Regions from separate parts of the Homo sapiens genome. Here all the other regions are linked to region 2. The links come from fine-mapping of genetic effects on gene expression. A gene starts in region 2. Each other region holds a variant in brackets. All regions are shown on one strand. Distances are from middle to middle.

Region 1 (7,561 bases), 24 kb before region 2:
CGTGCACACACACAGATGATCCCAGTTTGTACCAATGTGACATTCACACTTCACTCTCAGCCACCGACACACACACTCCCCGACACGCACATGCATACGCACGCCATGAAACGCACACACTCCGTACTCATGTCTCACGTGGCTACAGAGCCACAGGACACACAGCCACACTCACACCCACCAGGTGTGGGCCCCACATCCCTCCACCCACTTCTTCTCACCCCCAATGCAGGCCAGGACCAGCACGCAGAGGCACAGGGCAGGCAGGGCCTGGAGCCTGTTTCTGAGGAGGGACATTTCTGGGGGTTCCGTGCCTCTGTCCCTCTGTGCTCAACTCTGCGGGCCGGGGGAGGGGAGGCTGCACAGAGCAGGGCCCTCCCCCGGCCACCTCCCCGCTTGGCAGAGACTTCAGAGAGCAGGGCCCAGGTGACAGTGGCAATCAGAGGTCATGCCTCTGTGGGCCTCCCTCCTTCTCACCCTCCCACACAGTGCCCTGAGAGAAGACAGAGGCTCTTGAGCCTCCTGCACTGAGGCAGGTTCAAATCCTGTCTCCACCTCCCATGACAGCCTCATTTGCTGGCCTCAGTTTCCTCCTCCATAAAGTGGGAGGCACAGTACATATTTCAGTATATTACTTGAACAAATACAAAGAAAGGCGCAGTGGCTCACGCCTGTAATCCCAGCACTTTGGGAGGCCGAGGTGGGCAGATCATATGAGGCCAGGAGTTTGAGACCAACCTGGCCAACATGGTGAAAAACCCTGTCCCTACTAAAAATACAAAAATTAGCCAGAAGTAGTGATGCGTGCCTGTAATCCCAGCTACTTGGGAGGCTGAGGCAGGAGAATGGCTTGAACCCGGGAAGTGAAGGCTGCAGTGAGCCGCGATCACACCACTGCACTCCAGCCTGGGTGACAGAGCAAGACTCTGTCTTGAAACAAAACAAAACAAAAAATGAAGAAAGCTCTTACCGTGGAGACTGGCAATATAGGTGCTCAAAGATCATTGCTGTTGGCCAGGCGCGGTGGCTCATGCCTGTAACCCCAACACTTTGGGAGGCCGAGGCAGGCGGATCACGAGGTCAGGAGATTGAGACCATCTTGGCTAACACGGTGAAACCCCATCTCTACTAAAAATATGAAAAATTAGCCAGGCGTGGTGGCAGGCGCCTGTAGTCCTAGCTACTCGGGAGGCTGAGGCAGGAGAATGGCGTGAACCTGGGAGGTGGAGCTTGCATTGAGCCGAGATCGCGCCACTGCAGTCCAGCCTGGGCGAAAGAGCAAGACTCCGTCTCAGAAAAAAAAAAAAGATCATTGCTGTTATTATTATCTTGTGTCTAATTTCTCCTAGTCACTGGGCTGCAGGGCCAGGCTTGTGGTAGGGCCTCAATAGGGCCCAAGGGTTGATGAGAGGAAATAGCAACACAGTCTCATGTCTCCAGCCTCTGTTTCTTCCTAGGTGGGCTCGAGCCCGATCACTTCCAAGCATTCCTTGAGTTCTCAATTCCAACTCTTTCTCCTCTGGGTGACTCTGGCTTCAGATGGACCTGGGCTTCGAATCCCTCACTTCTTCACCGTGTGACCTGGGCAAATACGTTTTCTTTTCTGGGGCTCAGTTTGTTCAACTGTAACACGGGGTTGATAGGGAGCACCTGCCTCCCAGTGTCCTCATGCAGGACGGCTGAGGCCTATGCAGGAGAGCTGCAGGTGCACATAGTAGGAGGTCATCAACATCAGGCCCAGGGCCAGGGCGGTGGCTCCCACCTGTAATCCCAGCACTTTGGGAGGCCGAGGCAGGCGGCTCACTTGAGGTCAGGAGTTCAAGACCAGCCTGGCCAACGTAGTGAAACCCCGTCTCTACTAAAAATACAAAAATTAGCCGGGTGTGGTGGAGCGAGACCTTGTCTCAAAAACAATAACAACAACAAAAACCAACAAAAAACCCACATCAGGCTCGGTCCCAGTGCCAGAAATAGAGCATTTTTCTCCTGAAGGACCCAGCTGCACCCCAGGGCACATGGCTCAGGGGACTATGGACTGGATTCTTTTTTTTTTTTTTGAGACAGAGTCTGGCTCTGTCGCCCAGGCTGGAGTGCTGTGGCGCGATCTCGGCTCACTGCAAGCTCCGCCTCCCAGGTTCACGCCATTCTCCTGCCTCAGCCTCCCGAGTAGCTGGGACTACAGGCACCCGCCACCACGCCCAGCTAATTTTTTGTATTTTTAGTAGAGACGGGGTTTCACCGTGTTAGCCAGGATGGTCTCGATCTCCTGACCTCGTGATCCGCCCGCCTCGGCCTCCCAAAGTGCTGGGATTACAGGCTTGAGCCACTGCGCCTGGCCTGGACTGGATTCTTTTGTCTACGCTTGCCAGACGAAATAGAGGAGGCCCAATTACATTTGAATTTCAAATCAACAGTGCATGACGTTTTAGTATAAATATGTCCCATGAAATATTTCAGAATTATACCAAAAAGTTTTTTTTGCTATTAATCTGAAATTCAAATGTAACTGAGCATCCTGTATTTTTACATGGCAAATCTGCAAACGCAACCTTGGCCACAACCTGAACAACTGTGCAGGACTGTCTTGACCCAGATGTCTGCCTTGGCAGAATCCTGTCCATCCCAGAGGCCCCAGCGTGAGCACAGTAGGTGCGCAACAGATGTCCCCTGGAATTCCTCTGTAGCAATCATCAGCAGATTGAAAACACCCAGAGTTTCTGTTTGGGATGACGAAGACATCCTGCAAATAGTGGGGATGGTTGCACAACAGTGTGAATGTACTTAATGCCACTGAACTGTACACCTAAAAATGGCTGCAATGGTTAAGTTTTTTTTTTTTTTTTTTTTTTTTTGAGGCAGAGTCTCACTCCGTCACCCAGGATAGAGTGCAATGGTGTGATCTTGGCTCACTGCAACCTCTGCCTCCCGGGTTCCAGCGATTCTCCTGCTTCAGCCTCCCGCGTAGCTGGGATTACAGGTGTGCGGCAACCACACCCGGCTAATTTTTTGTATGTATGTATGTATTTGAGACATAGTTTCGCTCTTGTTGCCCAGGCTGGAGTGCAATGGTGCGATCTTGACTCACTGCAACCTCCGCCTCCCGGGTTCAAGCGATTCTCCGGCCTCAGCCTCCTTAGTAGCTGGAATTATAAGCGCCTGCCACCATGCCCAGCTAATTTTTTGTATTTTTAGTAGAGACGGGGTTTCACAATGTTGGCCAGGTTGGTCTTGAACTCCTGACCTCAGGTGATCCACCTGCCTTGGCCTCTCAAAGTGCTGGGATTACAGGCGTGAGCCACCATGGCTGGCTCATTTTTTTGTATTTTTAAAGAGACAGGTTTTCACCATGTTGGCCAGGGTGGTCTCAAACTCCTGACCTCTCAGGTGATCCATCCACCTCAGCCTCCCAAAGTGCTGGGATTGCAGGCATGAGCCACTGCGCCTGGCTGCCCAGCTAATATTTTTATTTTTTGTAGAAACACAGTTTTGCCAAGTTGCCCAGACTGGTCTTGAACTCCTGGGTTCAAGTAATCCTCCCACCTCAACCTCCCAGAGTGTTGAGATTACAGGCGTGAGCCACCACACCCGGCCATGTTGTTTATATTTTACCACAATTATAAAAAAACAAAAACAGCCAGGTACTGTGGCAGGGGCTTGTAGCCCCAGCTACTCAGAAAGCTGTGGTAGAAGGATTCCTTGAGCCCAGGAGTTTGAGAGTCCAGCCTGGGCAACATAGTAAGACCCCGTCTCTTAAAAAAAAAAAAAAAAAGCTGGGCACGGTGGCTCACGCCTGTAATCCCATCACTTTGGGAGGCCAAGGCGGGCGGATCACGAGGTCAGGAGTTCGAGACCAGCCTGACCAACATGGTGAAACCCCCGTCTCTACTAAAAATACCAAAAAAAAAAAAAAAGTTAGCTGGGCAT[C/G]GTGGTGGGCACCTGTAATCTCAGCTACTCAGGAGGCTGAGGCAGGAGAATTGCTTGAACCTGGAAGGTGGAGGTTGCAGTGAGCCGAGATCGCGCCACTGCACTCCAGCCTGGGCGACAGTGCGAGACTCAGTCTCAAAAAAAAAAAAAAAAACAGGCCGGGCGCGGTGGCTCACGCCTGTAATCCCAGCACTTTGGGAGGCCGAGGCGGGCGGATCACGAGGTCAGGAGATCGAGACCATCCCGGCTAAAACGGTGAAACCCCGTCTCTACTAAAAATACAAAAAAATTAGCCGGTCATAGTGGCGGGCGCCTGTAGTCCCAGCTACTTGGGAGGCTGAGGCAGGAGAATGGCGTGAACCCGGGAGGCGGAGCTTGCAGTGAGCCGAGATCCCGCCACTGCACTCCAGCCTGGGCGACAAAGCGAGACTCCGTCTCAAAAAAAAAAAAAAAAAACAACAAAAAACAAGGGCCAGCATGGTGGCTCGTGCCTGTAATCCCTGGTGGCAGGATCACCTGAGCCCAGGAGTTAAGACACTAATCTGGGCAACATAGGGAGACCTCATCTCTACTAAAAATAAAAAAAAAAAATTTAGCTAGGCGTGGTGGCATGCCCCTGTAGTCCCAGCTACTCAGGAGGCCGAGGTGGGAGGATTGTTTGAGTCTAGGAGTTCAGGGCTACAGTGAGCTATGATTGTACCATTGCATTACAGCCTGGGTGACGCTGTCTCCACAACAAACAAAAGCCCAAAATAAAAAACAAAAACAAACCTACTGTGTGTTGTGTTATGATTGGTGTGGGGTTCAGAGCCTGACTCTACCTGTTGCTTCTTTTCCTTTCTTTCCTTCCCTCCCTCCCTTCTTTGTTTTTTGAGATGGAGTCTTGCTCTATTGCCCATGTTGGAGTGCAGTGGCGCGATCTCGGCTCACTGCAACCTCCATCTCCTGGGTTCAAGCAATTCTCCTACCTGAGCCTCCCGAGTAGCTGGGACTACAGGCGCCTGCCACCACACCCAGCTAATTTTTGCATTTTTAGTATAGACAGGGTTTCACCACGTTGGCCAGGCTGGTCTTGAACTCCTGACCTCAGGCAATCCACACGCCTTGGCCTCCCAAAGTGCTGGGATTACAGGTGTAAGCCACTGCTCCTGGCCTGTTTTTTTTTCTTTTTGAGATGGAGTCTTGCTCAGTCACCCAGGCTGGAGTGCAGTGACGTGATCTCAGCTCACTGCAACCTCTGTCTCCCGGGTTCAAGCAATTCTTCTGCCTCAGCCTCCTGAGTAGCTGGGATTACAGGCGTCCGCCACCACGCCCAGCTAATTTTTGTATTTTTAGTAGAGACGGGGTTTCACCATGTTGGCCAGGCTGGTTACGAACCCCTGACCTCAAGTGATCATCCCGCCTCAGCCTCCGAAAGTGCTGGGATTATAGGCATGAGCCACCGCGCGTGGCTGACTCTACATCTTTCTAGCGGTATGACCTGGTACAAGTTGCTTTACCTGTGTGGGCCTGTTTCTTCATCCATGAATGGGAGTCATGGACTATCTACCTCATAGGGTTGCCAGGGAGAGTAAAGATCGTGCACAGAAAATGCCGCATAGGTGCCCCGTCAACGCCAGCTACTGTTTAATTCGTGCGCGCTTCCCCAGCACACACTGTGTGGCAGGAACCATGGCAGGGCTTTTAGATGATTACTTTACTTAATTGCGGTGGGGCATGGTGGCTCATGCCTGTAATCACAGCACTTTGGGAGGCTGACACAGGCAGATCACTTGAGGTCAGGAGTTCGAGATCAGCCTGGCCAATATAGTGAAACTCTGTCTCCACTAAAAATACAAAAATTAGCCAGGCATGGTTGTGGGCGCCTGTAATCCCAGCTACTTGGGAGCCTGAGGCAGGAGAATTGCTTGAACCCGGGAGGCAGAAGTTGCAGAGAGCCAAGATGGCTCAATGCACTCTAGCCTGGGTGACAGAGCTTTCCATCTCAAAAAAAAAAAAAGGTGGGGGAGCTGGGCGTGGTGGCTCATGCCTGTAATCCCAGCACTTTGGGAGGCCGAGGCAGGTGGATCACAAGGTCAAGAGATTGAGACCATCCTGGCCAACATGGTGAAACCCCATCTCTACTAAAAATGCAAAAATTAGCTGGGTGTGGTGGCGGGCGCCTGTAGTCCTAGCTACTCAGAGGCTGAGGCAGGAGAATCGCTTGAACCCGGGAGGTGGAGTTGGCAGTGAGCCGAGATCACGCCACTGCGCTCCAGCCTGGTGACAGAGTGAGACTCCATCTCAAAAAAAAAAAAAAAAAAAGAAAAAGAAAAACAAAAAAACTACTTACTTATTTGCCACAAAAACCCTATCAGGTGGGCATCTTCATCATTTCCATTGTACAGATGGAGAAACAAGCCTCAGGGTGGGGGCGCAGCCACTTACTGACGACTCCTCAACCAGCAAGTGGTGGTTTTGAACCGGGACCCTCTCACACTACCTAACCAGGCCAGGACAACCTCTGCCCCTCTCCACCAAAATCCAAGAGATCAAGGGGATGTTGGAAGTGGTATGGGCCCTGAGAGGTCTCTGACCTCTGCCGCAGCTCCAAGGTCAGCACGCAGGGAGGGCTATGTGTTTGCTGTTTGCTGCTTGCAATGTTTGCCCATATCAGGGACGGGAACAGGCTGAAGGTCATTCAGGGTGGACTTCAGAGGCAGCACACAAACAGCTGCTGGAGGATAGGAACTAAGAGGTCGGAAGGGGGCAGGGCGGGCCCAAAAACAGAGCCTGCAACTCTGTTCTCTAAGTCACCAAGCCCCAAAACCACTCTCAAATCTTTCTCTCTACCCCTGGATCCTTACCCTGGTCTGAATCCCATCCCCTCATCCCCCGAAACCCTGCACCCTCCTCCCTGCTAATCTTCTGGTGTCTCTAGCCACTCCCCTCCTGGCTGGATACTCTGGGTGATTGCAGGGAAGGCTGGGGTAAAAAAGGGTTTGAAATGTCCCTCCTAATGCATGTTGAAAAATTGAGTTATAATTCACATTCCATAAAATTTACCCTTTTTTCTTTTTCTTTTTTTTTTTTTTTTTTTTTGAGATGGAGTCTCACTCTGTTGCCCAGGCTGGAGTGCAGTGGGGCAATCTCAGCTCACTGTAGCCTCTGCCCCGCAGGTTCAAGAAATTCTCCCGCCTCAGCGTCCCAAGTAGCTGAGACTACAGGCACTTGCCACCACGCCTGGCTAATTTTTTAATTTTTCGTAAAGATGGAGTTTCACCATGTTGGTCAGGTTGGTTTCGAACTCTTGAGCTCAAGTGATCTGCCCGCCTCGGACTCCCAAAGTGCTGGGATTACAGGCGTGAGCCACCGCGTCCTGCTAAATTTACCCTTTTAAAGTGTACAGTTCAATGGTTTTTCCTATATTGGCAAGGTTGCACAATCACCACTATCTAATTTGGAACATGGCTCACTGCAGCCTCAACCTCCCTGATTCAAAGCCATCCTCCTACCTCAGCCTCCCAAGTGGCTGGAACCACAAGTGTGCACCACCATGCCCAGCTAATTTTTTTTAGGAGGGATGGGGTCTTGCTATGTTGCCCAGGCTGGTCTTGAACCTCTGAGCTGAAGCAATCCTCCCATCTTGGCCTCTCAA
Region 2 (7,561 bases):
GCTCACTGCAACCTCTGCCTCCCAGGTTCAAGCCATTCTCCTGCCTCAGCCTCCCGAGTAGCTGGGACTACAGGTGCCTGCCACCACACCCAGCTAATTTTTGTATTTTTAGTACAGAGAGGGTTTCATTATGTTGAGCAGGCTAGTCTCGAACTCCTGACCTCGTGATCCGCCTGCTCAGCCTCCCACAGTGCTGGGATTACTGGCGTGAGCCACCGCGCCAGGAGTTTTTTTTCTTTTTTGGCATGGAGTCTCGCCTTGTCGCCCAGGCTGGAGTGCAGTGGCATGATCTCGGCTCACTGCAACCTCCGCCTCCCGGGTTCAAGTGATTCTCCTGCCTCAGGCTCCCGAGTAGCTAGGACTACAGGAATGCACCACCACGCCCGGCTAATTTTGTATTTTTAGTAGAGACAGGGTTTCTCCATGTTAGGCTGGTCTCGAACTCCTGACCTCAGGTGATCTGCTTGCCTTGGCCTCCCAAAGTGCTGGGATTACAGGTGTGAGCCATTGTGCCTGGCCTCCAAACGATCTTTCTAAGTTTATGCCTGGCTCTATTTTCCCTCCCTCCCTCCCTTCCTTCCTCCCTCCCTCCCTGTCTTTCTTTTCTCTTTTCTTCTCTTTTCTTTTCTTTTTTTGTTGAGACAGGGTCTCATTCTGTTACCCAGGCTGGAATGCAGTGGCACAAACATGGCGCACTGCAGCCTAGATCTCCTGGGCTCAAGCAATCCTCTCGCCTCAGCCTCCCAAGGAGCTGGGACTACAGGCATGGGCCACCATGCCCAGCTAATTTTTTTTGCATTTCTATTAGGGACGGGGTTCTCGCACTCCTGACCTCAAGTGATCCACCCACCTCGGCCTTCCAAAGTGGTGGGGTTACAGGTGTGAGCCACCGTGCTCGGCACGTTCTTCACTGTTTTATTCCCCACATTGAAACAGTTTCCAGCACTTAGCAGATGCTCAGTAAATATTTTTGAAAGAACGAATGACTCTCTAACTTGCCAAAGGGGGCAAGGGTGGGTTTCATGATATACTGAGCATCTACATGTACCAGACACCCTGTAGGCCTGCTCCTTTACTTCCCTGTAGAACCACCAGTTTATAGGAGAGGAAACTGAGGCTCACAGTAATGCCCCTCTGTCAAGATCACACAGGAAGGGGTGCTACTCCAGCCTGGGGACCCAGGTCTGGCCAAGCTTGGGGCCTTCATTTTCATTACCTCACAAAACCATCTTTTTTTTTTTTTTTTTAAATGGAGACAGGATCTCGCCATGTTGGTCAGGCTGGTCTCGAACTCCTGGGCTCAAGCAATCCTCCCATCTCAGCCTCCCATAGTGCTGGAATTACAGGTGTGAGCCACCATACCTGGGCAAGACCATCTTGTTTTTTTTTTTTTTTTTTTTTTTTTTGAGACAGAGTCTCCTTCTGTCACCCAGGCTGGCACAATGTTGGCTCACTGTAACTCCCACCTTCCTGGTTCAAGCAATTCCCCTGCCTCAGCCTCCCGACTAGCTGGGATTACAGGTGCACGCCACCATGCCTGCCTAATTTTTTTGTATTTTTAGTAGAGACAAGGTTTCACCATGTTGGTCAGACTGGTCTCGAACTCCTGACCTCAGGCAATCAGCCCACCTCGGCCTCCCTAAGTGCTGGGATTGCAAGCATGAGCCACCGTGCCCAGCCCAAGACCATCTTTTAAAATATGGCCTGGATGGGAGTCAGGGAAACTGTCCTTGAAGTCTGAGCACCTTGAGATCTAGCTGTGTGACCAGAGGGATGTTGTCAGCCTCTCCAGGACTTGTTTTTTTTTCAATCTGTTCATCTTGGACCATCTGCCAGGGCTCCACCCAAAAACACACCCCAGCTCTCCCGTGCCCTGGGAAGGGTTCTAACCGCATCTTGGCAGAAAGTTCACTCTGTTTGATGCGGCTGATGAGTTCCCGAGCCTTGTCCTCCAGTGTGTTTCCAAACTCCTTCAGCTTATCCAAGGCACTGGAGACGTCTGGGGTCCCCTGGGCTGGGGCTGGGCCTGCCAGGAAGATGGGCAGGGGTTCAAAATTTGTTTTTTTTTTTTTTTTTTTGGAGATGGAGTCTTGCTCTGTAGCCCAAGCTGGAGTGCAGTGGCATGATCTCGGCCTACTGCAACCACCACCTCCCGGGTTCAAGCAGTTCTCCTGCCTCAGCCTCCCAAGTAGCTGGGATTACAGGTGTGCACCACCACACCCAGCTATTTTTGTTTTGTTTTGTTTTGAGACGGAGTCTTGCTGTGTCAGCCAGGCTGGAGTGCAGTGGTATGATCTCGGCTCACTGCAACCTCCGCCTCCCGGGTTCAAGTGATTCTCCTGCCTCAGCCTCCCGAGTAGCTGGGCCTACAGGCGCGTGCCTCCACACCTGGCTAATTTTTTTGTATTTTTAGTAGAGACGAAGTTTCACCATGTTGGCCAGGCTGGTTTCGAACTCCTGACCTCAAGTGATCTGCCCGCCTCGGCCTCCCAAAGTGCTGGGATTACAGGCATGAGCCACCCTGCCCGGCCAAAAATTTGTTATTGGAACCCCCTTAGGTTGGGATACCGGGATGGATAGAGATCCTTGGGGATCATGTGGTTAGAATGGGGAGGAATGGCCGGACGCGGTGGCTCACGCCTGTAATCCCAGCACTTTGGGAGGTCGAGGCAGGCGGATCACAAAGTCAGGAGATCGAGACCACGGTGAAACCCTGTCTCTACTGAAAATACAAAAAATTAGCCGGGCGCGGTGGCGGGCGCCTGTAGTCCTGCTGAGGCAGGAGAATGGCGTGAACCAGGGAGGCGGAGCTTGCAGTGAGCCGAGATCGCGCCACTGCACTCCAGCCTCGGCGACAGAGCGAGACTCCGTCTCAAGAGAAAAAAAAAAAAAAAAAAAAAGAATGGGGAGGAATACTGGAGTGACCTGGTGGGGCTCAAGCTGCTGGGAATTGCCTTACTCAGCACTGACCTCTCCCAGAGCCCCCCACCCAGCTTACCCACTTTCAAGGCTGTCGAAGCAGGACAGCCAATCCCAGAGGTGTGGGCCTCAATACGTCATCGGTTGCTAGTGCTCTCCTGCGCAGATTTGGCGCCTGCGGGACTGAGCCTGGGAGAACCTGGAGACCCACCCGACCACGATGAGGCAACCACGACCCAGAAGGGGCCCCGGAGCTCTCAGAGGTCCTCTAAGCCGGGACCCCAGGCCTGTAGCCACCTTCACTCTTCCAAATCTCCAACTCCGCAATTCTCCCATCCCACTTTTACCTTCCAAGACGATCGACAGAACCACCACCAGGACCGGGAGCGACAGGAAGAGCCTCATGGCGAGGCCGGAGGGGCACTCTGGAGGCAGAGGCAGGGGTTCAGGGGATCAGTGGCACCCTCCTCCCTCCCTACCTCCCTCCCACGATCCCCTCATCTCCCTTTTTGAGTTTCTTGCAGAGTGTAGGCGGGTGTCCCTCCCAGGCACTCAGCACCAACCTGAATCCTTGCTGGAGGGCTTGGTTGGGAGGTCCTGTCCTGCCCGCAGGACCTTTATCAGGCTGGGGAGGGGGCGGGGCAGGTTGATGTTGATCTCCCTCCTCCTGAGCCTTCCCCTGACCGCCTGCCTCCCTCTGTCCACCCACGTTTTTCTCCTCTGCCCCTGTCCCGTGAGCGTTGGGGTCAGGTGGGGTCCCGGGCACTTCCCTTAGCCCCAAAGCCCCTCCCCGTTCAGCACTCTCACCTCTCAATCTTCCTGACTCTGTGGGGTCCTCAGACCACCTTAGTCCCTTTCCCCACTCAGAATGTAGCAGGAGGAGCCGCAGACAAAATTCCTCAGACGCTGAGTTAAGGAAGGGGTTTATTCGTTCGGGGAATGGGCAAGATTCCTGTCTCAAGAGCCGAGCTCCCCGAGTGAGCAATCCCTGTTCCTTTTAAGGGCTCACAACTCTAAGTGGGTGCACGTGAGAGGGTCGTGATCGATTGAACAAGCAGGGGATGCGTGACTGGGGGCTGCATGCACCGGTAATTAGATCGGAACAAAACAGAATAGGGATTTTCACAGTGCTTTTCTATACAATGTCTGTAATCTATAGATAACCTAACGGATTAGGTCAGGGGTCAATCTTTAACCACCAGGCCCAGGGTGTGGCGCGGGCTGTCTGCTTGTGGATTTCATTTCTGCCTTTTAGTTTTTACTTTTTCTTTCTTTGGAGGCAGAAATTGGGCATAAGACAATATGAGGGGTGGTCTCCTCCCTTAAGAAGACAGCCTTGTCCTGTCCCTGTGGCCATCTTCCCTCAGGGGTCTCCCAGTAATAACCCTGTGATCTCATCCCCCCCTCATTCACACCGTGTCCCTAGATCACCTCTTTCCCTCACTTCCCCTCTCTCAGCAAGCCTCCTCAGCCCCAACAACTTTTCCTTTATGTTGCTGGGTCTCCCAGTTGGCCCGGCGCTCCTACCCTGCGTGCCACCTCCAATTTATTCCAGACCAGCCCTTGAAGCACCCCAGACCACCGTGATATTCTCTGGGCTCTTAACTTCATGGTTCTCAGTCTCCCTTTTTTGGGAGGGGAACGGGTCGCCTTAGCTGGATGACACTGCAAAAACCTCACCTGCATTAGCCAGGCATGGTGGCTCATGCCTGTAATCCCAGCACTTTGGGAAGCTGAAGAGGGAGGATCACTTGAGCCTGGGAGTTCGAGACCAGCCTGGGCAATATAGGGAGACCTCATCTCTACAAAAAAGTTCAAAAATTAGCCGAGCGTGGTGGCGCATGCCTGTAGTCCCAGCTACTCAAGAGGCTGAGGTAGGAAGATTGCTTGAGCCCAGGAGTTCGAGGCTGCAGTGAGCTGTGATTGTGCCACTGCACTCCAGCCTGGTGGGACAGAGACCCCATCTCAAAAAATTAAAACCCTCAGCTGCAAAGCTCTGCGTGTATGTCCCTTCTTCCCTTCCACCGGGCCTCACCCCCTTTGGCTGGCTACCTCCCCCAAACACTCTATCTGCTTTTATTCACCCTCTGACGCCCCTCCTGGCACCAAGCCTGCTTCCCACCATCACTACATCCGTCCCCCAAGGCTGGAGTCCAATGCCTTCCCCACCAGCTGCCTTTGACCGCCAGTGACCCTGGCAGCTGGTGGGGAGGGTGTCCTCCGCCTAGCCTCAGACTCTAGGTTGGCTGGCCTTGTGCCCCCGCAACCACGTGTCAGCCTGGCAGTAGGGGGATGGTTGTGAAAAGGACAGCATAGACAAGACCCTGGCAGGATTGCAACATCCCTCTGGCCAGCTCAGAGCTTCCAGTCCCTGTCAGCCCCAGGGGCCCCCCTACTTCCCCAACTAAGCCCAGCACCCCCCAAACATCCACCCAGATGTCTGCTTCCCAGACCCCACAAGAATAGCATAACAATGCTCCTGCTTTTCCAACCTCATCCTCCCCTCTGCTATAGGGGTTTCTCTTTAATAGATGGGGAAACTGTCGCATAACCAAGAACATCCAGTAGGGCTCAGCGAGGGGCAAAGATGGGGGCTACTGGCTGGTTGCAGTGGCTCACGCCTGTATTCCCAGAACTTTGGGAGGCCAAGGTGGGCGGAGCACTTGAGGTCAGGAGTTCGAGACCTGCCTGGCCAACATGGTGAAACTCCGTCTCTACCAAAAATTCAAAAATTATCCAGGCATGGTGGTGTGCACCTGTGGTCCCAGCTACTCAGGAGGCTGAGGCAGGAGAGTCGTTTGAACCCATGAGGTGGAGGTTGCAGTGAGCCAAGATTGTGCCACTGCACTCCAGCTTGGGTGACAGAGTGAGACTCCGTCTCAAAAACATAAAAAAAATTTAAAAAAGGGGGCTCTTTGTCCTTCTCCTTCCCAGGCTCCAGGATGTCTCTGTGGATGGTTGCTGGGTCAGCTCCTGTCCCATACGACTCCCTGCCAGCCTTTGTTCTGGAACCTCCTTCCCATCCTTGTCCCACCTCTGGATCTGACTGGGGATGTGGTGAGATAGGGCACCCTGTCTGCTTAGACATCTTCATAGGTTGGTGGGGCGTGGTGGCTCACACCTGTAATCCAACTACTTTGGGAAGCTTTGGCAGGAGGATCTGCTTGAGCCCAAGAGTTTGAGATCAGCCTGGGCAACATAGTAAGACCCCATCTCTACAAAAAAGTTTAAAATATGGCCAGGCATGGTGGCTCACTCCTGTAATCCCAGTGCTTTGGGAGGCCGAGGCGGGTGGATCACCTGATGTCAGGAGTTTGAGACCAACCTGACCACCGTGGTGAAACCTCGTTTCTACTAAAAATACAAAAATTAGCCTGGTGTGGTGGTGTGCGCCTGTAATTCTAGCTACTCAGGAGGCTGAGGCAGGAGAATTGCTTGAACCCGGGGGGCAGAGGTTGCGGTGAGCCAAGATGGTGCCACTGCACTCCAGCCTGGGCGACAGAGTGAGACTCCATCTCAAAAAAGAAAGAATTAGCCAGGCATGGTGGTGGGTGCCTGTGGCCCCAGCTACTCAGGAGGTTGAGGCAGGAGGGTTGCTTGAGTTGGAGGCTGCAGTGATTGATGATCGTGCTACTGCACTCCAGCGTGGTCGACTGAGCAAGGCACTGTCTCAAAAAAAAAAAAAAATTCTTAAAGGTGAGAACTCAAGGTTCGATTCTTCAGGTGGGAGATGTGGCTGATGCTGATTCTCTCATTGACATCTGGGGAAACTGAGGCTCTGAGAGGGTGCTGCTCCAGCTCCTGGACATACGGTGAATCAGCAGCAGGCCCAGCAGACCAGGCCCCCTGCCTGTGAGCACACTGACCCTTCCCCTCCTCACTCAGCCCTGGTGAGTCATCTCCAGGGGAGGGGTGCTGCCTCCACGTGGGTGATCAGAGCAGTGCCAGGGAAAGCACCAAGTTCAGGGTGTGCAGGAGCCAAGATGGGCAGAGGGACAAGCAGATGTTGCAGCTGGCCCAGGAGATACAAGCTCAAGTCTCAGCCTGTCCCCCGTTGGTGGGAACCCTCCTCCCCGTCTCTGAGAACTGAGGGGGTGGGAGGAGAAGAGAGTGCCGGCGGCTCCTGGGCTTCCATCCAAGCTTCCCCTCTCTGAGCGCCAGCTCTCGTCTCAGCATGGGCCTGGTGCAGACTCCGACAGAAGAGCCGCTCCCTTCTCTTCCCAGCCTGGATTCAGCACCCAGTAGGCTTGTTGGGAAACATGAGGGGTAGACATCACAACTGGAGGAAAGGATGGAGAATGAGGGATGGTCCGGGTGAGGTGGCTCATGCCTGTAATCCCAGCACTTTGGGAGGGTGAGGCAGGCAGATTACTTGAGGTCAGGAGTTCGAGACCTGCCTGGCCAACAATGCCGAAGCCTTGTCTCTACCAAAAATACAAAAATTAGTCGGGTGTGGTGGGACACGCCTGTAATCCCAGCTACTCTGGAGGCTGAGGCAGGAGAATTGCTTGAATCTGGGAAGTGGAGGTTGCAGTGAACCAAGATTGCACCACTGCACTCCAGGCTGGGCAACAGAGCAAGACTCTGTCTCAAAAAAAAAAAAAAAAAAAAAAAAAAAAAAAGAAAGAAAGAAAGAGAATGA
Region 3 (7,561 bases), 73 kb before region 2:
GGGCTGTGAGCCCTGCGCAGCATGGGGCCTGCTCTCTCCTGGGGCGGCCGGACCGCTCACCGAAGGTCAGCAGGAAGCCGTAGAGCATGCTGAGCACCCAGGAGTACCAGCCCTTGTGCTCCAGGTACAGAAGACTGTAGACGGCATAGCAGCCCAGGAGCGGGAAGAGGATCCAGGACAGGTACCGGAATGCCATCTGTGGGGCCACAGGGTGGGGCTGTCAGCCAGCTCCTCAGCCCTGCCTGGCAGCCCTGCTCCCCGCCCTCACCCACCACACCTGGTCTGGCAGGCCGGGCAGGGGGAATTTCCAGGTAGCCCTGGGGACTCCGGACTCGCCCAGGGAAGCAGTTATGGCAGATGGGGGACACAGAGGATGTGGCACAGGCTGTAAAGCATGGGTCCGGCAGACAGATGGCCGGCCCCGGGTGCCTCAGGGATACGTGGTACCTGGAGACCACCCCCAGGGGCCCACTGTGCAGGACACTCACATCATCATACACTTTGGTCGAGGACTCGATATACGTGGACTTGTCCTTGAAGGATAGGCGGGGGAAGATTCCTGCCACCCTGTGCTCTCGGTCCAGCTGTGGATGAGGTGGGTGCCATGGTCAGTTGCTACGCTGGCTCCCACCCCACAAGCCAGAACCAGCCCCTGCCCTTCCCCACCGTTCCCAGTTCCCCTGCCCCATGTGTGACCCAAAAAATCCCCTGGTGAGAAAATCCCCTCAGTCCTGGGAGTGAGGCACTTGCTGGGAATCCCCCGGGGGCCAGCTCCAGGGTCCAGCTGGGCCACACTACCCCCTCCCAACCCCTGCAGCTCCCGAGACAGCATGGCGCCCCAGCCTTACCCGGACGTCCATGACCTTGGTGATCTTCCAGAGGTCGATGAGGACCCCAATGAAGACGCTGACCTGGACCACGAAGTTGGTCTCGTTGTCCAGGATGTAGAGGAGGACCACGAATGACTGGAAAACGCCGAAGAAGACGGAGCGCACGGACAGGCCCTCCAGGGACTGCCGGCTGTTCCAGAACTGGATATCTGTGCGCAGGGGGTAGGGGGGAACCAGGAGGCTGAGGAGGTGCTGAGACCCTACTGCAGCTCCCTCAGGCCCCCTTGGCCTGCATCCTCACACCCTGGGGTGGGGCTGGGTCCTCAGGAGGGGTGCTGAACGAGACCCCTCTCTCCCAGGAAGGCTCTCATATTCATTGGGTGACCCCCAGAGCACCAGACAGGCGGCACCCCTGGAGCCCTCCCATAGGACGTCAGCACCCAGCACCCCAAGGTGCAGTCCCTTGACTGATGGTGACGGTGACTGGTGCCATGGACAGGGCTCACCACGTGCCAGGTGCTAAGGACTGGTCAGGGAAGCTGCTTCCCTGAGGCCAAACAGCCTGGCATGGCAGAATCTGAAGGGACGCGGGGTCTGTGCCACACCATGGTGCCAGCTCGCCCTCCCTGGGAAGGAAGATCTGTGGCATGCACTTCAAGACCACCTCCTCCAGGCCCCTGCCCTGACACCGGGAAGGAACTGGCTCACAGCCATGCTCAGGAAACTGAAAAGGGCCCTGGGCTCCAGTCTGGAGCTCCTTCCAGTGCTCCGCCTAGATGCTGCCAAGGATCCATGTCAGCATGCTCCTCTCTGAGCCCTGGTCTCACCACGGACACCCCTCTCTTGACCCCGCCCGGCTGAGCATCTAACCGCAGCCACAGGAGGCTGAGCCACCACGTCTGTAGCACAGTGGTGGAGCCAGGTCTGCAGTCCTGCAGAGTCAGGGCCAGCTCTGCACTCAGGGAGTGAGGGCTGTGAATTCTGGTCCATGTGCACCCTACCCCATCCCAGAGCTCCCCCACATCCCAGAGCTCCCCCACATCCCAGAGCTCTGGCACACTCCATAGCCTCACCCCACCCACCCCTGCCCATCAGAATGACCCCTGTCCCAACTGAGAAGAATGGGTCTGGAGACAGGGTTCTGGTGGGTTCTCGTGGGAGCAGTTGGGCCCAAGCCTCTCCTTAGACCAGGGAGGCCACACAGCACTGGTGCCAAGTGAGGCCTGCGCCCCCTGCTGCATGACACTGGGGAGGACAGCCTTCTTGTGCCTCATTTCTCACTGGACCCCAGCCAAGCCAGCTCCTAGGCAGAAGGGTCCCGTCTCCCAGCGACAGCTGGTAGATGGCTGGCTGGGGTCGGCACCAGCTCCTGTGCCCGTATGACACTGCATTCTTCCAGATGGTAGTTCTCAATAATGGCAAGAGCGTCCTTTTTTTTGGAACAGGGTGTCACTCTGTTGCCTAGGATGGAGTTCAGTGGTGTGATCATGGCTCACGGCAGCCTTGACCTTTCAGGCCCAAGCCTCCCGAGTAGCTGAGACCATAGGCACACGCTGCCATGCCCAGCTAATTCTTAAAAAAAATTGTGTAGAAACGAATCTCGCTTTGTTGCCCAGGCTGGTCTCAAACTCCGGGGCTTAGGTGATCCTCCCACCTTGGCCTCCCAAAGTGCTGGGATTACAGGCGAGAGCCACCACCAGGCCGGCAATAGCATCTTAATACCAGGAATACTACTACTCATTCCTCTTGCCGCCTGCGGGAGCTACAGGGCCGCAGGCCACTCCTTCAGACTGGGGTGCTCTGGGCAAGGAAGAAGTGGCCTGCAGGGCCTAGAAGATGAGAGTTGGGGCTGGAACCATCTGCCCCTTAGGAACCGTGTGACTGGGCAAGTGACATCCCTGAGCCTCTGGCTCCCACAGGGCTCAAGGAGCTACTGGGGAGGGTACCCAGGACAGTGCCTGGCATGTGGCTGCTTCTCCTCAAACGCTGGCCATCAGTATGGTCAGCCTTAGAACCTAGGGACCTTTGGGGGACAGTGCTCCTCCTTCCCACTTGGGCAGGCCCCGTCCACTCAGCCCTAAGCGGCCTCCCGCAGCAGGCAGCCTGCCGGGCAGGGTGGCGGGAGCAGCTCCGGGGCTTCCCTGCTCTTGGCTCTGGAGTTCCCCAGCCCTGCTTCCTGGCAGTATTGGCCTGGCCTCTGCCCCACCAGCGGGCCAGCCCCTCCCTCAGCTCCACACCCGGTGGGTGGGAATTTCTGGGTTGGGAGTTTTGGGGCCACTGCCCCTCCCCAGCTCACTAGGCCTCTGGAGAGTGGGGCTGAGAGACCCCAGGCAGGGGGAGGACATGTGGGGAGGGAGGGGAGGAGGAAGGGGGCAGGTCCTGTCCCCCACCCTGCACAGCCTCTCACTAGCCCTGGGGTCCTGTTCCTACCATTCTTGAAGGCCAGGAACTCGAAGACACTGTGAACGATAGACACGATGATGGTGAGCGCCAGCAGGTAGGGGTTGGTCTCCAGCAGGGCCACCTGCAGGGGACACATGTGAGCACAGCCTGTCCCCACCCAGGAGCACCTTCACTAGCTTTTGTCCCGAGGGCTGCCCCTGGGGCCGCCTGTAGAGGGAGGCTGAAGGTGGGCCAGCCAGGAGGAGACTGGGTCAGAGATGGGCAGATGGGGAGAGAGAGGAGGGTGACTCACAAAGACAGAAGAGACGGGGAGATGGCACTAGGGGAAGAGGCAGAGGCCAAGGGAGTGCTGCGGGGAGTGGGTGAAGGGACACTGGGAGCCAGGAGCAGAGACCCAACAGTGACGACAGCCCAGGAGGCAAAGCCGAGCCTCACGCCACAGACACAGGCTGACATTTCAGGACCCAGTGAGATGGCAGAGACACAGAGTTGGAGCCAGGGCCAGGGACACAAGGTCTGGGACAGAAGGAGGAAGGGACAGGTCTGGACCCAAAGGGTCCAACAGAACAGCCTGGGGAGAGGACCCCCAGTCATCTAGGGCTGGAGGGCTGGGTGCCCACTTCCTTTCACTGTGGAGAAGGGACCTGGGAGGTTGTGAAACTGTGGGCAGAGGAGCACCAGGCGGGAGGTCCCACAGCCCAGGCCTGGCACACTTCCTCTTGGCCTCTTGCGCCCAGGAAGGCACCGGGAAGTCCCGCCCACACCGGCCGCACTCACCTTCACCGAGTCCTGCTCCTCATCTGACTGCTCGTACAACTCATC[A/G]CCCAGGAAGTTCCAGGGCGACTTGGTGCTCTGGGCAGCATAGAGCTGCCAGCGCCAAAGCGAGAGTGGGCAGAAGGAGACGCGGAGCGGCAGGCTGGCCAGGCTCTCGTTGATGGGGTAGTAGTCCTTCTGCAGGTTCCAGTAGTCATTGAAGTAGATGATGGGATAGTAGTCACCGCTCACGGCGTCGAACTTCACATCTGCAGCACGTGGGGCAGGGGCACCATTTGGCCCGGGCAGGAGGCCAGGGTACCCGCAGGCCTCAGATGTCTGGAGAGACCCAACAGGGCCCCTCTACAGAGACTGGAGGACAGGGGACATTTCTAGGCCACACCATGAGGAGCTAAAGGGTGCCTTGACCTCAGCAGAGGGGACTGAGGCAAAGGGCAGGCAGGTCCCCACTGAAGGGGGCAGCTGTGGCTCAGCTCCAGCCCACGGCTGCCCTGTGGGTGACCATGTAACCCAGTTTTATAAAATAAGCCAGAAATTGTGGCTTTTAAGTGATACTGCCTCAATTTCAAAAGCTGGCAAGTGATAAGACATTTTTTGAAAACAGTTTGTGGGCTGGATGGCACTTGATTGCGGACCGATGCTGGCGTGTAGAAGTCAGTCCTGGGGTCCCCAGGGGTGGTGGTGTGGGAGAGGGAGAGGACATGGGAAGGGGATAGGACAGGGTGGGAGCTTGGGAGGGTGGAGCCCTGGAAAGCTCTCTCAGGGGGACAGGGCCAGGAGAAGACAAGGAGATGGACCCCGAGCACCCTCTCAAAGGCTCTGCAGGCAGCTGGCAGGGCTGGGGAGCTTACATTGATCCAGGGGAGGGGGCACACTGCCCTTCACCCACGGCGTGTGGTCGTCCACGATGTTGATGGTGATGTTGGGGTGCCAATGGGAGATCACCTCCACAGGCCCATAGTCCTCAGCCCTCTGAGGCAACATGGGGGGAAGGACCTCAGAGGCAGGTGGAAGTGCTCGGGGACTATCACTCTCTGTACACTTCCTCCCCAGGGTTCCCGAGAAAATCTTAATCTTTGCTTTCTTTTTTTTCTGAGATGGGGTCTCACTATGCTGCCCAAGCTGGTCTCGAATTCTGGGCTCAAGCACGATCCTCCCACCTCGGCCTCCCAAAGTGCTGGGATTAGAGGCGTGAGCCACCATGGACAGCTTCTTTTCTTTCTTTCTTTTTTCTCTTTTTTGGAAGAGATGGGGTCTCACTATGCTGCCTGGGCTGATCTTGAACTTCCGGGCTCAAGTGATCCTTCTGCTTCGGCCTCCCAAAATGCTGGGAAAACAGGCATGAGCCATCTCCCCTGACAACCCTGGCAGCAGAATATCAGCCACCACAGCAACTGCTGGCAGAAGGCTCTCCTCCCTAGGCTTAGAGATTCCGCCACCCAGGACCCTTCCGGCCACCGACAGGATCCTCCCACCCCACATGTAGAAAACCGAGGTAGAGGTAGAGGCAGGGCTGGCATCCTAGGCCAGGCTGCGAAGCCCAGCCTCATGACAGCAGGCTCCACACACTCTTGCACGGTGGCCTCAGCTCCATGAGCAGGGACCACCCCCCCAACACAGGACCACCCGCAGAGAGAGGAAGTCTCTTAGTGCCCACTGCAGGTTAACCACAGATTAACTGCCCGGCTCCCCAGCCCACTGGGAGTGACAGCAACTATGAATCCTGCAGTTCCTACTAAAGCCATATTCTCGTGTGTGTGCTTGGAGCCAGGCTGAGCTTGGGCTCTGGGGCCTGGCTGTGTGGGTGAGAGTCCCTGGCCTGCCACTTCCGGCTGAGACTGAGCAAGTGTCCTCATGTGACAATGGGACTGTGATGTAGACCCCTCCCAGGCTGGCAAGAGGCTCAGGTAACCTTGTCTGGGATCCTCCTCACTCCCTGAGAGACAGCTGCCTCCTGACCCCATTTCCCAGAGGAGGAGCCCAGTGCTCAGGGAGGGGAGGTGGCATGACCGAGCCGGCATGGTGGTTCAGTGGTGGTGACAGATGACAGCCCCAGTGGTCTGGGATGAGCTGTGAATGGCCTGGCTTGGTCCCTATAGGCCCTGACAACCCTGCCCATTTACCTTGATCATTTCTGGGTCCGCTTCTGTCTCTCCTGTCAGCAGGTTCTTGGTTTTCTGAAATCGTCTGCGCTTGTATTTGTTGATCACTGTGGTTGGGAGGTGGGAAAGGAGGGGACGTGAGACCTGCTGGCACCTGCAGCCTCCAGAGCCCGGACCCCTGCCCACCAGCAACGGCTCACGGTCTCCTGGCATCCACCTTGCACTCACCTGCTGAGATCAATGTGACCTGGAATGCCAGAACTGCCTCCCCAAATCTCAACGAATCCCAGTTCCTCATGATCATGGGGACGCCACCATCACCAAATGCCCCAGGCAGAAACCCCAGCTCAGTAGGGCACTGTAATCCCAGCACTTTGGGAGGCTGGGGCGGGCAGATCCCCTGAGGTCAGGAGTTAGAGACCAGCCTGGCCAGCATGGTGAAACCCCCCGTCTCTAATAAAAATACAAAAATCAGCCGGATGTGGTGGCGGGTGCCTGTAATCCCAGCTACTCGGAAGGCTGAGGCAGGAGAATCGCTTGAACTAGGGAGGTGGAGGTTACAGGAAGCTGAGATCGCACTGTTGCACTCCAGCCTGGGCAACAAGAGCGAAACTCCGTTTCAAAAAGAAAAAGAAAACAAACAAACAAATAAATAAAAACAAGTGACTGATCATGGCATCCCGCAGCTTTGGAACCCCAGACACTCACCGTAGCCCCGGTGACCTCTCAACCCTCACCACCTTCCACTTCTCAAACATGCCAACCCGGGGCCTTCAGGCGTGCTGCCCCGTGTCCCAGGAACCCATGCCCTGACACAATCTTCGTGGCCTGGCTCCTCCGTGGCATTCAAGTCCCTGGCAGAATGTCCTTCTTCCACAGGGCTTCCCTGGCCACCCCACTGAATGAGCCTATGCAGTCATTCTCCTGCCAGCTTGTTTCCTTCACAACATTTCACCACTATCCAAAACCACTTAGCCAGTGGTTTACCTGCCTGCTGTCTGTCCCTGCAACCAGTCTGCAAACTCTGTGCGGAAATGCGGGTAGGGGCAGGGCCTGTTTGAATACACATGGGGCGCCTGCACAGGCTCGGTGATGACCAGTTGAATACATGACTATAAAGAGGCAGCAGACGGTTCCAAAAAAGGCCTGAAGCCACCAACATGAGAAACCAAGATGAGAAACACTTTGAGGCTGTGAATCCCCAGCCAGGAGTTGGCCTCACTTCCTCTCGCAGAGGCCCAGTTGGCCACAGGCCCCCTGCCATGTTGTCCCAAATGCTGCCGGGGAGGAAGGGGCTTGTGCGTGCCCACGCTCCATCTCCCAACCTCTGCCCTGGCCTGGGGACGTTTCTGTTTTTTTTCTGGAGACAGAGTCTCGCTCTGTCACCCAGGCTGGAGTGCAGTGGCACAATCTCGGCTCACTGCAACCTCCGCCTCCTGGGTTCAAGCAATT

Which allele goes with the higher level. Positions count from the first base shown, and alleles are read on the strand shown. Sizes are in standard deviations (SD) of each study's normalised expression. Not every link is listed here.
For the expression in monocytes of the gene that starts at base 3,608 in region 2, C is the low allele of the variant in region 1 and G is the other (large effect, 0.84 SD a copy in Quach 2016).

What was found. PIP is the estimated chance that this variant, and not a neighbour inherited with it, causes the effect. A credible set is the group of variants that fine-mapping cannot tell apart.
Region 1: its variant is the best candidate, but not a certain one, in a credible set for the expression of APOC1 in monocytes (Quach 2016, PIP 0.66).
Region 3: its variant is the best candidate, but not a certain one, in a credible set for the expression of APOC1 in lung (TOPMed, PIP 0.68).

The regions. Positions count from the first base shown.
Region 1 is chr19:44,935,014-44,942,574 of GRCh38, reverse strand. APOC4 (apolipoprotein C4) reads right to left here and starts at 338. Exons shown (of 3, transcript NM_001646.3): 1 at 222-338. The coding sequence starts at 297. APOC4-APOC2 (APOC4-APOC2 readthrough (NMD candidate)) reads right to left here and starts at 337. Exons shown (of 6, transcript NR_037932.1): 1 at 222-337. The variant C/G (reference allele first, on the strand shown) is at 3,925.
Region 2 is chr19:44,910,655-44,918,215 of GRCh38, reverse strand. It overlaps APOC1 (apolipoprotein C1), which reads right to left and starts at 3,608. Exons shown (of 4, transcript NM_001645.5): 1 at 3,483-3,608; 2 at 3,267-3,344; 3 at 1,891-2,026. The coding sequence starts at 3,324. RefSeq lists enhancers at 2,537-3,294, 3,295-4,054, 4,813-5,572 and a promoter at 3,469-4,595.
Region 3 is chr19:44,983,873-44,991,433 of GRCh38, reverse strand. It overlaps CLPTM1 (CLPTM1 regulator of GABA type A receptor forward trafficking), which reads right to left. Exons shown (of 14, transcript NM_001294.4): 6 at 6,131-6,216; 7 at 4,859-4,979; 8 at 4,011-4,255; 9 at 3,261-3,354; 10 at 849-1,039; 11 at 489-584; 12 at 61-196. Among named protein-coding and RNA genes, the nearest start is that of RELB, 14 kb to the left of the region's middle. RefSeq lists enhancers at 1,644-1,693, 2,174-2,333. The variant A/G (reference allele first, on the strand shown) is at 4,056.